2 separate regions of the Homo sapiens genome follow, and region 1 is linked to region 2. The links come from fine-mapping of genetic effects on gene expression. Tissue or cell type: whole blood. Region 2 holds a variant in brackets; the other region holds the start of a gene. All regions are shown on one strand. Distances are between the middles of the regions.

What was found. PIP is the estimated chance that this variant, and not a neighbour inherited with it, causes the effect.
Region 1: it holds the start of C10orf88, and the variant in region 2 is fine-mapped to the expression of C10orf88 in whole blood (INTERVAL, PIP 0.97).

What each region holds. Positions count from the first base shown.
Region 1 is chr10:122,949,653-122,956,130 of GRCh38, reverse strand. It overlaps C10orf88 (chromosome 10 open reading frame 88), which reads left to right and starts at 1,904. Exons shown (of 6, transcript NM_024942.4): 1 at 1,904-2,116; 2 at 3,099-3,302; 3 at 4,105-4,177. The coding sequence starts at 1,953. It overlaps LOC124902519 (a long non-coding RNA gene), which reads right to left and starts at 1,689. Exons shown (of 2, transcript XR_007062325.1): 1 at 1,563-1,689. RefSeq lists a silencer at 2,109-2,188.
Region 2 is chr10:122,923,754-122,931,742 of GRCh38, reverse strand. It overlaps C10orf88 (chromosome 10 open reading frame 88), which reads left to right. Exons shown (of 6, transcript NM_024942.4): 6 at 1-842. Among named protein-coding and RNA genes, the nearest start is that of FAM24A, 17 kb to the right of the region's middle. The variant A/G (reference allele first, on the strand shown) is at 4,603.

The DNA.
Region 1 (6,478 bases), 25 kb before region 2:
CAGGGTTCAAAGTACAAAGGACTCTGCATGCTATGCTAAGGAGTGAAGGTGTTGATTCAGTCAGGAACATTGATCACCAGAAGGAGAAGAGGGCAGTGCAAAGACTGAAATGGAAGGAATCAAAATGAAAGCTACTGACAAACTCCTGGAATTGTTCAGATAAAGCTAGTGCTTGGAAACAGAAGAAGCAGAGATAGGAAAATTTTTCTTTAAGAAAATGAAGACTTGGTGGTTTATTGGCTGTATGGAAATAAAGGAAAGGATAGACCATAGGAATCTTTTGTTTTCTGATTCCTGGACATTCAGCTTTATTTAAGGAAGTCAAAATCCAGTTTATAATATTGCTATTGCTCATGAAATTGCAGATTAGTTTCTGAAGAGCCTATTTTCCTTCGGATTGTCCACATGTATTAATGTGGATCAAAGTTAACTTACAACCACAGGAAGCAGGACATACAGGACAAAAATAATGACAAGGACAACTTAGAATGAGTCTGAAATATTAAAAAAATCTTTGCAAACGAGGACTTTACAATTCTGCTATGATAGACCTTTGGTGACATTTCTCTCTTTCAATCTTGGTGAATTCACCTACCATACGTACATTCTGGTGATTACTTATAGAAAAATACATTTGGTCATCATTTTTCTTGCTTTGACACAGGTAAACAGAATGCAAAGTTTATTCTCATTTTTAGCTAGAGGGCACAAGTCCTAGTACATAAACTCAAACGAAAACATAAGCAAAAAGATTAAAGTAATGCGCACTGAGTCATGAACCCAGAATAGACAGCTCTGAAAGAAAATTAGAGTATGGGTGAGCAAAAACGTTATTTCCTAGAGAGGATACCACCTTAAACACAACTTTGGAACTCTAGATTATAGACAAGTGGAATTTCAGAGTTTGCTTTTTTCAAAAGACAGAAAAATAATCTGCACAAGCCTCTACAGGAGGAGGATGAGGGGGCACACTATATACAGTCCCATCCCGTGGGGCATCTAGAAAGTTCCATCTGCTCCCACTGTTCTGCATCCGTAGCCTTAAGTTCCTTCAAGACTGAGTTCATATTCTACTTCAACAGAGTTCTGAGACCCCCCCTTTCCACTCGCTGTTTCCAGTGCCATGAGGAGCGATCTCATGGGGCAGCCCCTGCCTTCGGTGTCTGGGTCTTTCTTGCATTTCAAATTTCTGTCACCTAGAGCGTCCAGCCCTGGATGCCCGGGTTCCTGCGGCCTGAGGGTTGCACATGGGGTCAGGGGGCGTCAGCTGAGACAGCACCCGGCGAAGGCCAGCGTGGCTCAATGCCCATCACAGATGCCCTTCAACCCCAAAACCCCATCATCCGCTTCAGCCCCCCTCTAAAGCGAGAATATGTGTGAGGGAGGCTAGGAGAATTCGAAGTAAAAATAACCCGAATCGGCAGCGCGTCCGCCGCGCTAGCTGCCACAAATGCTGCAGATCCGACGGAATGGAAGCAGAAAAGGCCCTGGCGTCCCCTTGGGAAAGAACGAGGTCAGGAGTCGGTCTTGCACGCAGCGTAGAGCGACGAGACTACACCTACCTGATCACAGACGTTCCACACCAGCTCAGCAACGGTCGTCCACGCCGCTTGCTGTTTCCCCACAGCCAACGTCGAAAACACCCTCGTGCCGGCGCGCAGTGCACCGCGCCTGCGCATAGTCTCCAGCGAAAGAGCAAGGGTCTGCCAGTGCGCATGCTCCGCTCTCGACCTCCTCCCCGCACACTTTGAACGCCGCGCCTGAGGCCAGCTGGCACATGCGCATGCGTGTCTCTGGTGCCTGCTCTCCCCACCAAAGCAAGAAGCGGCGGGTACTTGAAGCGGAGTGAGCCGGAAGTCGCTTTGCCTGCCCATTTCCACGCTGTACCGGCGGAAATTCAAGCACTGGAAGAGAGGTTCCGGGGCTGGGCTGGCCTGACTGAAGGCGGCGGAATGGAGACGCGGACCGAGGACGGGGGCCTCACCCGCCGCCCCACGCTGGCCTCTTCTTGGGATGTTGCAGGCGGGGCCCTGACCCACAGCCTCCTCCTCACCCGGGCCGGTCTCGGCCCCGGTGACTTCGACTGGGAGGAGCTGCTGGCACCGCCTGCTCCAGGGTGCGCCGGGCCGACGGGGACGGGGTCGCTATGCTCGGCAACTGCCGCGCTTCTAGGGGAGCTGTGAGGGGAGGCGAGAGGGTCTGAGCCCGGGATCCGGGAGAGCAGTTGGTACCAGGTCTCTAGTTGGGGAGGGGAGCTGCGAGGTCGTCCGGGGTGGGCGGAGGGGGGTGGGTCCGGCCGGGAAGGGGCCGAGGCTCCTGGGCGTGAGAGGGGGAAGGTGACCCGGACTCGGAATTTCATATAACGTCCCCATCAGGCGTGATAGCCCCTCAGGGCTGCTGTCAAAGTCAGTCCGCCCCTCTACCCTCAAACAAGACACCTCCTGTCCACCAAAACAGGCTGTGTAAAAAGTCCAGCTATAGATGATCGCTGTCGACTTAATTTCGAAAAAGATACACTTTTGTCTTTCATTGTGCCCTGCACCCAGTAGGTGCCCAGTGATTTATGTAATTATCCGAGAGTCAATTGCAGGGGATTGAGTAGAATGTTGATTGAGGAAAAAATAGAGTTTGGGAAAGCCCTGATGTGTGACACCTTCATTTCCGTATGAATTCTGTGTTGAGCGCTTCTTGGATGCTTGGGAAGGTGCTTGGACCTCAAGGGCAAGTGGAAGTGAGTTAGAAGAAAGAAGCCCCGGCCGGGCACGGTGGCTCACACCTGTAATCCCAGCACTTTGGGAGGCCGAGGCGGGCGGATCACGACGTCAGGAGATCAAGACCATCCTGGCTAACACGGCGAAACCCCGTCTCTACGAAAAATACAAAAAATTAGCCGGGCGCGGTGGCGGGTGCCTGTAGTCCCAGCTGCTTGGGAGGCTGAGGCAGGAGAATGGCGTGAACCCGGAAGGCGGAGCGTGCAGTGAGCCGAGATGGAGCCACTGCATTCCAGCCTGGGCGACAGAGCCAGACTCCGTCTCAAAAAAGAAGAGTCATGTTCAGAGAACTATACTGTGTGATGTTTTCACCAATTTTCTTCTCAGTCAGGATCTGGTGATTTTGAAGAGAAACCACAACAACAAAGATGAAAACCCCTGCTTCCTTTACCTGAGGTGTGGCCCTGATGGAGGTGAAGAAATCGCTTCTATTGGCATTTTAAGTTCAGCAAGAAATATGGAAGTGTACTTAGGAGAGGAGTACTGTGGAACCAGTAGGGGCAAGAATGTTTGTACTGTCCTGGATGACAGGTGTGTGACTTGTACACGGGAAAGTGTTCTTCTGAAGTAGTGTTTTGATTTTTCTCACTTTTTGCAATAATTATTGATTCTCTGATATTGATACCATATGTTATGGGAGAGAAGATAAAAATGTGCCAGTAGGCATAGAAGTTTACAACTTTAGAGATCTTAAAAGACAGTGTAGATCAGCCTAGTTATTTTTATAAATGTTGAAATTTAGAACTAACAATCAAGGTGAATTGGTAGGAGGTCATAGCTAGTTAGTGGAAGAGTTTTATTAGAATGAAATTTTGAGAAGTGTGTCTCTTTCCTTAAACTCACAGCAGTCTGTCTTCCGAAAGTTAATTTGGTAGTCAGTCTGGAACTTTGAATACATTTTCTTCTTGGAAGCCTATTAGAAATGGTGGAGGGATCTAAGACTGTGCTACATAAACCTATTTATTAACCTGTAACGCAACTTGTGATTTTTTTTCTTACGAAGATTTTTCTCCAATCTGTCTTTAACACAAAATATGAACTGTTTTATATCCTGCATGTTGGAAACAATTGCTGTGTTTATTGAGCTTTAAAATACAGTCTGGCTACATGGTTGTACATATGTTATATAATGTAATTTTCTCATTGAGCCTAGTAAGTGGTAGATGTAATCATAGGCAGTGTGCTTCAGTTATGGAGCCCAACTCTTCATGCCTCACCAGGAAAACTGAATCTTAGGATTTCAATATTGTTCTGGAAACATTTATTTTTAAGTGTAACTATTAAAAGTGACAATATATGTAAGTAAAAAAAATTAATTCTTTTTTATTTTTAGTGAACATGAAAAGATCATTTTGTATAAAAAAAATCTAAAATTGGAGTCCTCCACACATGCTTGTAAAATAAAGGTAAGTTGTCAGTTGTAAACTAATTTGACAACTAAGTTGTTTTTGTACTCTGTGTATGCTTGTTTTCTTTTGGATTAGTAATACAATTAGTCCAACTTGCTTGCTTGCTTTTTTTTTTCTTTTCAAGACAGTATCTTGCTCTGTTGCCCAGGCTGGAGTGCAGTGGGACAATCATGGCTCACTGCAACGTCATCTCCCAGCTCAAGCTAACTTCCTACCTCAGCCTCCCAAGTAGCTGGGACTACAGGCATACACCACCATGCCTGGCAAATTTTTTAAATTTTTAGTAGAGATGAGGCTCAGAAATACTTAGTAAACATGTACAAAGAAATTACTTTTCTAAAAAATTATCAGCCCTTTTTAACATTGAATTAAGAAATTTTTTTTTTTTTAAATTTTTCACCCGGTGACCAGTGAGTAGACTTTTTCTCTTAAAATTTAACCATGAGCCACGTGCAGTGGTACATGTTTATAATCCCAGTTACTCAGGAGGCTGAGGTGGGAGGATTGCTCAAGCCCAGGAGTTCAAGACCAACCTGGGCAACAGAGTGAAACCCCATCTCACTAAAAAAATAATAAAAATAAAATTTGACTATTTATTAACCTTGGATAATGTATTGTTAATATGGTAGTGCTGTGTATTTTGAAGTGTTGGGAAATTGAGCAAAAAACATTTTTAAAAACTATATAAACTGTGATGGCAAAAACCCATTTATAAAAGAACAAAATTAGAGAAGTTTCAAGCAAGAGAACCAATAAGTTAAAGGGATTGGACTGTTGTCTTCAGCATGAAAAATATTGTTAAGGTAACTGTTAGTTATGTCTTCAGAGTCTAGGGATAAGGTAATGGATTGGAAGTCTTAAGCCCTGAATGCTAATTCAGTTCTGTCCTGACTAGTGGATTAGTCTTGGGCAGATTTTGGACCTATCTCATGGGTAAAATTAGAGAGCTGAAGAAAATTCTTGGATTCTTTTTATCTCTAAACTTCTGTACTTATTATCATTACTTATAGAAGATTGAAACCTATTTTTACAATAAGAAAAAATAAGTGATTTTTACAGGCAGATAGCAAACTCACAGGACTGATTATCCCAAGATGTTGTTTTGGATAGTATATATTAAATAGCTTCTAAAACCATTTGAATAAAGTAATTTCTTCATTCAACAAAGATTTGAGTGCCTCTTAATGTCAGGTACTATACCAGTCATTTAGGAATTAGCAATAAGAAAATAAACTGAAATGCCTGAACTTATGTTGCTTGTATTCTAGTGGGCAAGACAGACAATAAGGAGACTCAATGAGTAAAATAAATACTATATTTAATGGTGAAAAAGGCTATGGGGTTAAAAAGAGAAAGGGGGATAATAGAGAGGTTGAGAGGTAGGAGGTTAATAAGAGTGTTTCCTTAAAATGTTGAAGACAGTCACATCTTTGGTTCAACACTTAAGAGTTCTTGGATCATGAGTCTGTATTGACCTATGTCCTTGTTTGACATGTGGACCTGTGTGTCTCTCTGAAGGTGAATGTTTTTTTAACTGTTCAATGGAGGTACATGGGAGTGCAAAGGGTTATTTCAGGGAAGCTCTAGGATTGATATGAAAGCTTGTTCTGAGGCAATAGTATATGGAAGTTCAAATAAAAAAATGGTTACTTATACAGGTTTTTGAGCACTTACTTACTGGTAGCTACTGGAAATTTTAACATATAATCCTCGCAACAACTATGTGAAATCATTGCTACTGTCTTCTCTCATTTTTATCCTGACTCAGATTTAGCATTTGCCCAGGGTCACACAGGTTGTTAAGTACCAGAGTCGTAAGTTAAACTTAGGTTTGTCTGATTCTAAAGTCCGTTCCCTTTCCATTTTGCTACTCTGTTGTCTGTACCATACATGAAATGTCTCGTTTCAGAAATATGGACAGGATAAAATGTTGGATAAACTACAGGGATAGAAGCCAGAAGAGATAGGTTTCAAGCTGGTTCTTTACTAATTGAGTGTCCTTTAACAAGTTAGAAAAATCACCCTTGAAGTCATCATTTCTATGTGTAATCCAGCAAGCTATATTACATCATTTTGATATTCTCTTATAGTTCTGAATTTGAAAGGATTGCATTTTACTTATTTCAGTAAACGTTTTACATGAGCATTTGGACAGACTTATTTTGTGTTAAGTAGCAAGTTGTGGTGTGTTAAGGTCTCAGATTGGTATATAGCAGTTCTCCTTTATCTGCAGTTTCACTTTCCACAGTTTCCATTACCCACAGTCAACTGAGGTCCAAAAATATTAAATGGAAAATT
Region 2 (7,989 bases):
CCAGACAGTTTAAGAAAACCTCTCCTTTTGAGCTGATACAGGTTTTTTCCCCAGAATCCTTTTCTGGCATGTTTATTGTATGAAATAATGAGGCTCTCCATGGAAGGATGAACACATATGAGTCAAGGGATTGCAATTCTCTCTGATAGACTTAGTTTTCAGACCTTATAACTATTGTATATGCATTGAAGGGTGATATATTTGCATATAAAAATAAATGCACCTGCTCTGGGAACTACTTGTCTTTAGTTAGTAGAACTGTTTTATTTCAACTAATCTTTACTTCAAATGTCTTATTTTTTAGAAAAAGGGTATCTCATACTCATTTAATATTTTGGCAAATTTCTTCTTTAAAAATGTTACCTGATGTAATTCCTGCGTGACATAGCTGAATTTTTACCCTGCCCTAACTCTGCTTATCTTTAAGAAACAGGATGCCTGTGATGAAAAGTTCCTTTTGTAACCAGTCCAGAGGAGACTGGTTACAACCACGATAGCTGACCAAACGACTTTAAAAAGACCTCAGCCTTTTTATAATCTTATTTCTGTGCTAAATAACGCTCCTGCTAGCTCCATGACAGTTGACAATCGCCATGACAGTGACCAGAAGAAGCCATGAAAGGACAAAAAGGAAGGCAGCACTCTGGTTTTAGGAAGTTCACTGCCCATTTCTGAAAAATCCAGGAATATTCCTCCCTTTGCTTGAATGTGAAACACCTTTATTAGAAAAATTATATTTTAACCCCCTCACTCCTCATTAGTTGAAAAGTTGATTTGTGAGCCATACTCCTGCTTCTCAATTCAGTGGCGATTGAATAAAACCTGCAGTGTTTGTCACTCTTTTTTGGTTTCACGTATTGGCTTTGTGACACCCATCAGGGAAAGACCCCATCTTTTGGAGGACCAGCTTTGTTGGTAACAAAAGGAGGGCTAATTTATATGTTGTTTGTTCATTTTTATCATACTACAAAGGTGACACAGTATATGGAACAAACTGTGACCATAGTAATGTCAGGATTTGCATATCCCTTTTGATAGTCCTTGAAGGGCCATTATTTATGGGACATTCATAACATATATTAGATAGTATCTCTGTTCTCATTGAGAAGTCTGTCTCAAGTTTGAATCTGTTAGTTAATAGTCCTGCATTAGTTAATAGTCCTGCATCTTCTGGTAGTTGTGGTCTGTTCATTGATTCACAAAGTGCCTCACTATGATGTGGTAGCAATTACTGTATTCCAAGCAAGGATGATGAATGAAGTTAGGGGCAGACAGTACAAAGGCCAATTCTGAGTTCCTTCTGCATGTATCTGATGATGAAGTAATTGGGAAGCAAGATCACAATCATCTTAAAGAGTAATATTTGGCAATTTGAAATTTGATAAATATGTGATTTCTCTACATACTCTGCATTTGTTATTTGGAACAGTGCCAGCATAACAGAGGAACTGTTATTGGAATTAGCTTAGTGTTTATGTTAAAAATCAAAGACAAAATATCCCTGAAAGTATTTGTTTTTATTTATTTATTTATTTATTTATTTTGAGACAGAGTTTCACTCTGTAGCCCAGGCTGGAGTGCAGTGGTGCGATCTCATCTCACTTCAACCTCTGCCTCCTGGTTCAAGCAATTCTCCTACCTCAGCCTCCCGAGTAGCTGGGATTACAGGTGCAGACCACCATGCCTGGCTAATTTTTGTATTTTTAGTACAAAATACTGTTGGTCAATCTGGTCTTGAACTCCTGACCTCAAATGATCCACCCACCTCAGCCCCCAAAAGTGCTGGGGTTACAGGCGTGAACCACTGCGCCCGGCCCCTAAAAGTATTTCTATTTCAAGTGGCTAATTTAGTTTGGCTTCCCAGTGTGAGGTAGAAAACTTGTGAAATTAAAGTATCATAGTCTGGCTGGACATGGTGGCTCACGCTTATAATCTTAACACTTTGGGAGGCTGAGGCAGAAAGATCACTTGAGGCAGGGAGTTTGAGTCCAGCCTGGGTAAACATAGTGAGGCCCTGTCTTTACAGAAAAAAAGGTGTTAGAGTTAAGGAGCCATGCAGGGTCATTTATTAAGGGTCAGTATTTTTCATAGTTGTCAAAACATTTGATTAACAGGGAAATTAGTGTCCTTCTTTGAAACTGGAAAACAGTATTTTACTAGGATGTTTGCATATTGACATTCACAAATGTTCAACTGTTTTCAAACTTAAAGATGCATTATGCAAGTCTTTGTAGTGAATGTGTTTATAGAAGTTAATACGTTTAATTTCTTGATTTAAGACTTAAAAAGCCATTTTAGGTTCATAGCAAAATTGAGAGAAGTTACAGAGATTTCTCATATATTCCCTATCCTTACGTGTGCATAACCTCCTCTACTATCAACATCCTCACTAGAGTGGTACATTTGTTACAATTGACGAGCCTACATTGACATCTTTATCACCTGAAGTCTATAGTTCATATTAGGATTCACTCTTGGTGTTGTACAGTCTATGGATTTGGACAAATGTATAATGACATGTATCCACCATTATCGTATCATATAGACTAGTTTCACTGCCCTAAAAATCCTCTATGCTCCACTTATTCATCCCTCTGGCAGCCACTGCTCTCTTTACCATCTCCATGTTTTTCCTGTTTCCTGAATTCCATATAGTTGGAATCATGGTCTGTAGCCTTTTCAGTTTGGCCTTTTACTTAGCAATATGCATTTAAGTTTCCTCCATGTCTTCTCATGGCTTTTTTCTTTTTGTTTTGTTTTGACATAAAAATAGTTGGTTATAAACCAGAATTATAATTCTTCGTAGTCCATATAAATAATGATATAAAGCTAGGCATCACAGGACTTCTTGTATACCAGGATCATTTTCACCTAAGATAAATTATTAAACAGTTTCTATTTAATTGTGACTTATCCTTAAAAACAAAACATCTATCAAGCTCAGTACATTCAGTATCAGATATTAAGTAATGTGGAGAAAATGACTCAATGTAGCCAACATACAGTTATCACTGAGTGCATTTGCCATTCCCTCTGTCCCATGCAATGTCAGAATTCAGATTCCTGACCTTTAAAACTAAGGATTCTTCTGTGTTAAGATAGTATTTCTCCATTTAAAAAAACCCCATGTCTCATTTGCTGGCTCTGGGTCTCTTAGGCCTCTTGAACCTGGTACCATCTCCACAGGAGTCTATAGGGGTTTGGCACAACAGACCACCATCATATATGCAGTCCGTCATTGACTGGAGCATCCTTATGTGGTGCATAACTAGTTTTGAAACAATACCATGGGAAGACTTTGAAAGCTGCTTCTCCTGGTGCCAGGGAATCACTGAAGAACTACGCATGATGTTTAAGAAAGAGAGTGACATCATCGGCTCTGGGCCTTGGAAAGAAAACTGGAGTGGAAGTCTCCTCATCATCCTGATACAGGTGAAATCCCAAATGGGGGCTTAGCTTGGGAGGGTTCTTGGCTTCAGCTGAAAGAATTCACACACTGGGGCCTGTTGTGGGGTGGGGGTAGGGGGGAGGGATAGCATTAGGAGATATACCTAATGCTAAATGATGAGTTAATGGGTGCAGCACACCAACATGGCACATGTATACATATGTAAATAACCTGCATGTTGTGCACATGTACCCTAAAACTTAAAGTATAATAAAAAATTCAAGAGTGAGCCAACAGTGAAAGACAGCACATTTATGGGAGCAACAATGTACAGTGAAATGGCTGCTCCATAGACCCAGCAGAGCTATCCCATAGGCAGAGTGGCACTTGTGGACTGCTGGCTAGCTATATTAATGCCTGTGCCTAATTATATGCTAAGTAAGGGGTGAGTTATTCTTGAACTTTCTGAAGAAGTGGCAGCCGACTCTGGTGGATGAAGTCAGTCCAGGGCAGGGCGTGGTTGGCCTGAGCTTGAGCATCCCTCTCTGCTCCCAGGCTGGGAATCAGGAAGCTCTGGCTCTTGCAGCCCATGTGTAAGTCCTAGGTATTTTATTTGTAGCTATTATAAATCAGATTACTTTCTTGATTTCTTTTTCAGACTGTTTACTATTGGCATATAGAAATGCCACTGATTTTTGTATGTTGATATTGTATCCTAAAACTTAACTTGTTTTTCAGTTCTAGTAGTTTTTTGGTGATGTCTTTAGGTTTTTTCCAAATATAAGATCGTATCATCTGCAAACAAGGATAATTTCATTTCTTCCTCTCCAACTTGAATGCCCTTTATTTCTTTCTCTTGTCTGATTACTCTAGTTAGGACTTATAGTACCTATTCTAGTACCTCTTCAATAGTACTTCTATTCAATTATTGTTGAATAACAGTAGTGATAGTAGGCACCCTTGTTGTGTTCCAGATCTTAGAGGAAAGGCATTCTGTTTTTCCCCATTCAGTATGATAACTAGCTGTGGGTCTGTCATATTTGGCTTTTATTGTGTCAAAGTATTTTCCTTCTATACTCAGTTTTTTAAAGTGTTTTTATCATGAAGGAATGTTGAATTTTATCAAATGCCTTTTCAGCATCAATTGAAATGATTATATGATTTTTGTCTTTTATTTTGTTGATATGATGTATCACATTGATTGATTTAAGTGC[A/G]TGGAGCCATCCTTGTATTCGTAGGATAAATCCCACTTGGTCATGATGAATAATCTTTTTAATGTGTTGTTGAAGTCAGTTTGCTAGTATTTCGTTGAGAATTTTTGCATCAATATTCATCAGTGATACTGGCCTGTAGTTTGTTCGTTCTCTTTCTCTTTCTTTCCTTCTTTCCTTCTTTCTTTCTTTCTTTCTTTCTTTCTTTCTTTCTTTCTTTCTTTCTTTCTTTCTTTCTTTCTTTCTTTCTTTCTGTGTCTTTGTCTGGTTTTGGTATCAGGGTATTACTGGCCTCATAGAAAGAGTTTGGAAGTATTCCTTCCTCCTTTATCTTTTGAAATAGTTCAAGTAAGATTGGTATTAGTTCTTCTTTAAATGTTTGGTAAAATTCAGCAGTGAAACCATCATATCCTGGAATTTGTTTTGCTAGGAGACCTTTTAGTACAGCTTTGATCTCATTACTTTTACCAGTCTGTTCAGACATTTTCAGGTTTTGGATTTCTTTCAAGTTTAATCTTGGTAGGTTGTATGTGTCTAGGAATTTATCCATTTCTTCTAGGCTTTCCAATTTATTGGTGTATATTTGCTCATAGTAGCCCCTAATAATCCTTTGAATTTTTGCAGTGCCAGTTGTAATATTTCCTTTTTCATATCTGATTTTATTTATCTGTTCTTCTCTCTTTTTTTCGGTTAATCTGGCTAAAGTTTTGGTGATTTTGTTTATCTTTTAAAAAAACCAGCTTTTCATTTTGTTGATTTTTTTTGTTTTCCTCATTTCAAGTTCATTAATTTTTGCTCTTATCTTAATTATTTCTTTTCTTCTAATTTTGGGTTTGGTTTACTCTTGCTTGTCTAATTCTTTAACTTGCATGGTTAGGTTGTCTATTTGAAGATTTTCTACTTTTTTGATGTAGGCTTAAAGATATACGCTTTCCTCTTAGTACTGCTTTTACTATATTCCATAGGCTTTAATATGTTGTGTTTTCATTATTTGTTTGAAGAAAATTTTCACTTTCCTTCTTAATCTCTTCATTGACCCACTGGTCATTTAGAAGCATATTGTTTAATTTCCATGTGTTTGTATAGTTTCCCAAAATCCCCTTGTTATTGACTTATAGTTTTATTCCATTGTGGTCAGAGAAGTTACTTTGATATTATTTCAAGTGTTTTGAATTTTTAAAGACTTGCTTTGTAGTATAACATAAGGTCTATCCTTGAGAATTATCTATGTGTTGAGGAGAAGAATGTATATTCTGAAGCCATTGGATGAAATGTTTTGTAAATATCTATTATGTCCATTTGGTCTATAGTGCAGATTAAGTCCAATGTTCATTGATTTTTTTTTTTTTTTTTTGGTCTGGGTGATCTGTTCAGTGCTGAAACTGGGATGTTGAAGTCTCTAGCTATTATTCCGTATTGGGGTCTATCTCTCTCTTTACCTCTAATAATATTTGCTTTGTATATCTCAGTGGTCCAGTGTGAGGTGCATTTACAGTAGTTATAGCCTCTTGCTGAATGTATCCATGTATAATTATATAATGACCTTCTTTGTCTCTTTTTATAGTTTTTGTCTTGAAATATATTTTTTGCATCAATCTATTCTGCTCTTTTTTGTTTCCATTTGCATGGAATATCTTTTTCCATCCCTGTATTTTCAGTCTATGTTGTGTCTTTATAGGTGAAGTGTGTTTCATGTAGGCAACAGATCATTTGGTCTTGTTTTTGTTTTTGTTTTTGTTTTTTAATCCATCAGCCACTCTATGTTTTTTGATTGGAGAGTTTAGTCCATTTACATTCAATGTTATTATTGGTAAGTAAGGACTTACTCCTGCCATTTTATTTGTTTTTGGGTTGTTTTGTGGTCTTCTCTTCCTTCTTTTCTTACTAATGTCTTCATTTTAATGAAGGTGATTTTCTCTGGTGGCACATTTTAATTCTTTGCTTTTTATTTTTTGTGTATCTGTTGTGTGTTCTTTGATTTGAGGTTACCATGAGGCTTTCAAATAATATAATATCTCGTTATTTTAAACTGATGTCAACACTGATTGCATAAACAAAGAGAAAACTAATAAAACTCTACACTTTAACATTGTTCCCTGCTTTTAAATTTTTTGTTGTTTCTATTTTTATCTTATTGTACTGCCTGTCTTGAAAACTTGTTGTAATTATTATTTTTGATCAGTTCATATTTTAGCATTTCTACTCTAGATATGAGTAGTTTACATGTCACAGTTATGGTGTTGTAATATTCTGTGTTTTTCTATGTATTCACTATTGCCAGTGAGTTTTGTACTTTCACATGACTTTTTATTGCTCATTAATGTTCTTTTCTTTCAGACTGAAGAACTCCCTTTAGCATTTTTTATAGGACAGGTTTCATGTTTAAATTTCTCAGCTTTTTTTCTTGTCTGGGAAAGTCTTTCTCCTTCATGTTTGAAGGATATTTTTGCTTGATATACTATTCTGGAATAAAAGTTTTTTTTTCCTTCAGCATTTTAAATACACTGTCTCCTGGCCTGTAATATTTTTACGGAGAAGCTTGCTGCCAGATATACTGGAAGTCCATTGTATGTTGTTTCTTTTCTTTTGCTGCTTTTTAGGATCCTTTCTTTATCCTTGACCTTTGGGAATTTGATTATTAAATTCCTTGAGGTAGTCTTATTTGTGTTAAATATGCTTGATGTTCTGTAACCTTCTTCTACTTGAATATTGATATCTTTCTCTAGGTTTGGGAAGTTCTTTTTTATTATCCCTTTGAATACACTTTCTATCCCTGTCTGTCTACCTGTTCTTTAAGGCCAATAACTCTTGGATTTTCCCTTTTGAAGCTATTTTCAAGATTTTGTAGGCATGCTTCATTCTTTTTGCTTTTGTCTCCTCTCTCTTTGTATTTTCAAACAGCCTGTCTTTAAGCTCACTAATTCTTTATTTTGCTTGATCAATTCTGTTGTTAAGAAACTCTGATGCATTCTTCAGTATGTCAATTGAATTTTTCAACTACAGAATTTCTTCTTGATTCTTTAAAATAATTTCAATCTCTTTGCTAAATTTATCAATAGGATTCTGAATTCCTTCTCTGTGTTATATTGAATTTCATTGTATTTCCTCAAAACAGCTATTTTGGATTCTCTGTCTGAAAGTCACATATCTCTGTCTCTCCATGATTGATTCCTTGTGCCTTACTTAGTTCATTTGCTGAGGTCATGTTTTCCTGGATGGTCTTGATGCTTGTGGATGTTTGTTTGTGTCTGAGTATTCAAGAGTTAGGTATTGATTGTAGTCTTCACAGTCTGGTCTTGTTTGTGTCTGTCCTTCTTGGGAAGGCTTTCTAGATGCTTGAAGGCAAGTGCCTATTGTGATCTAAGTTTTTGGTCACTGCAACCGTATCTG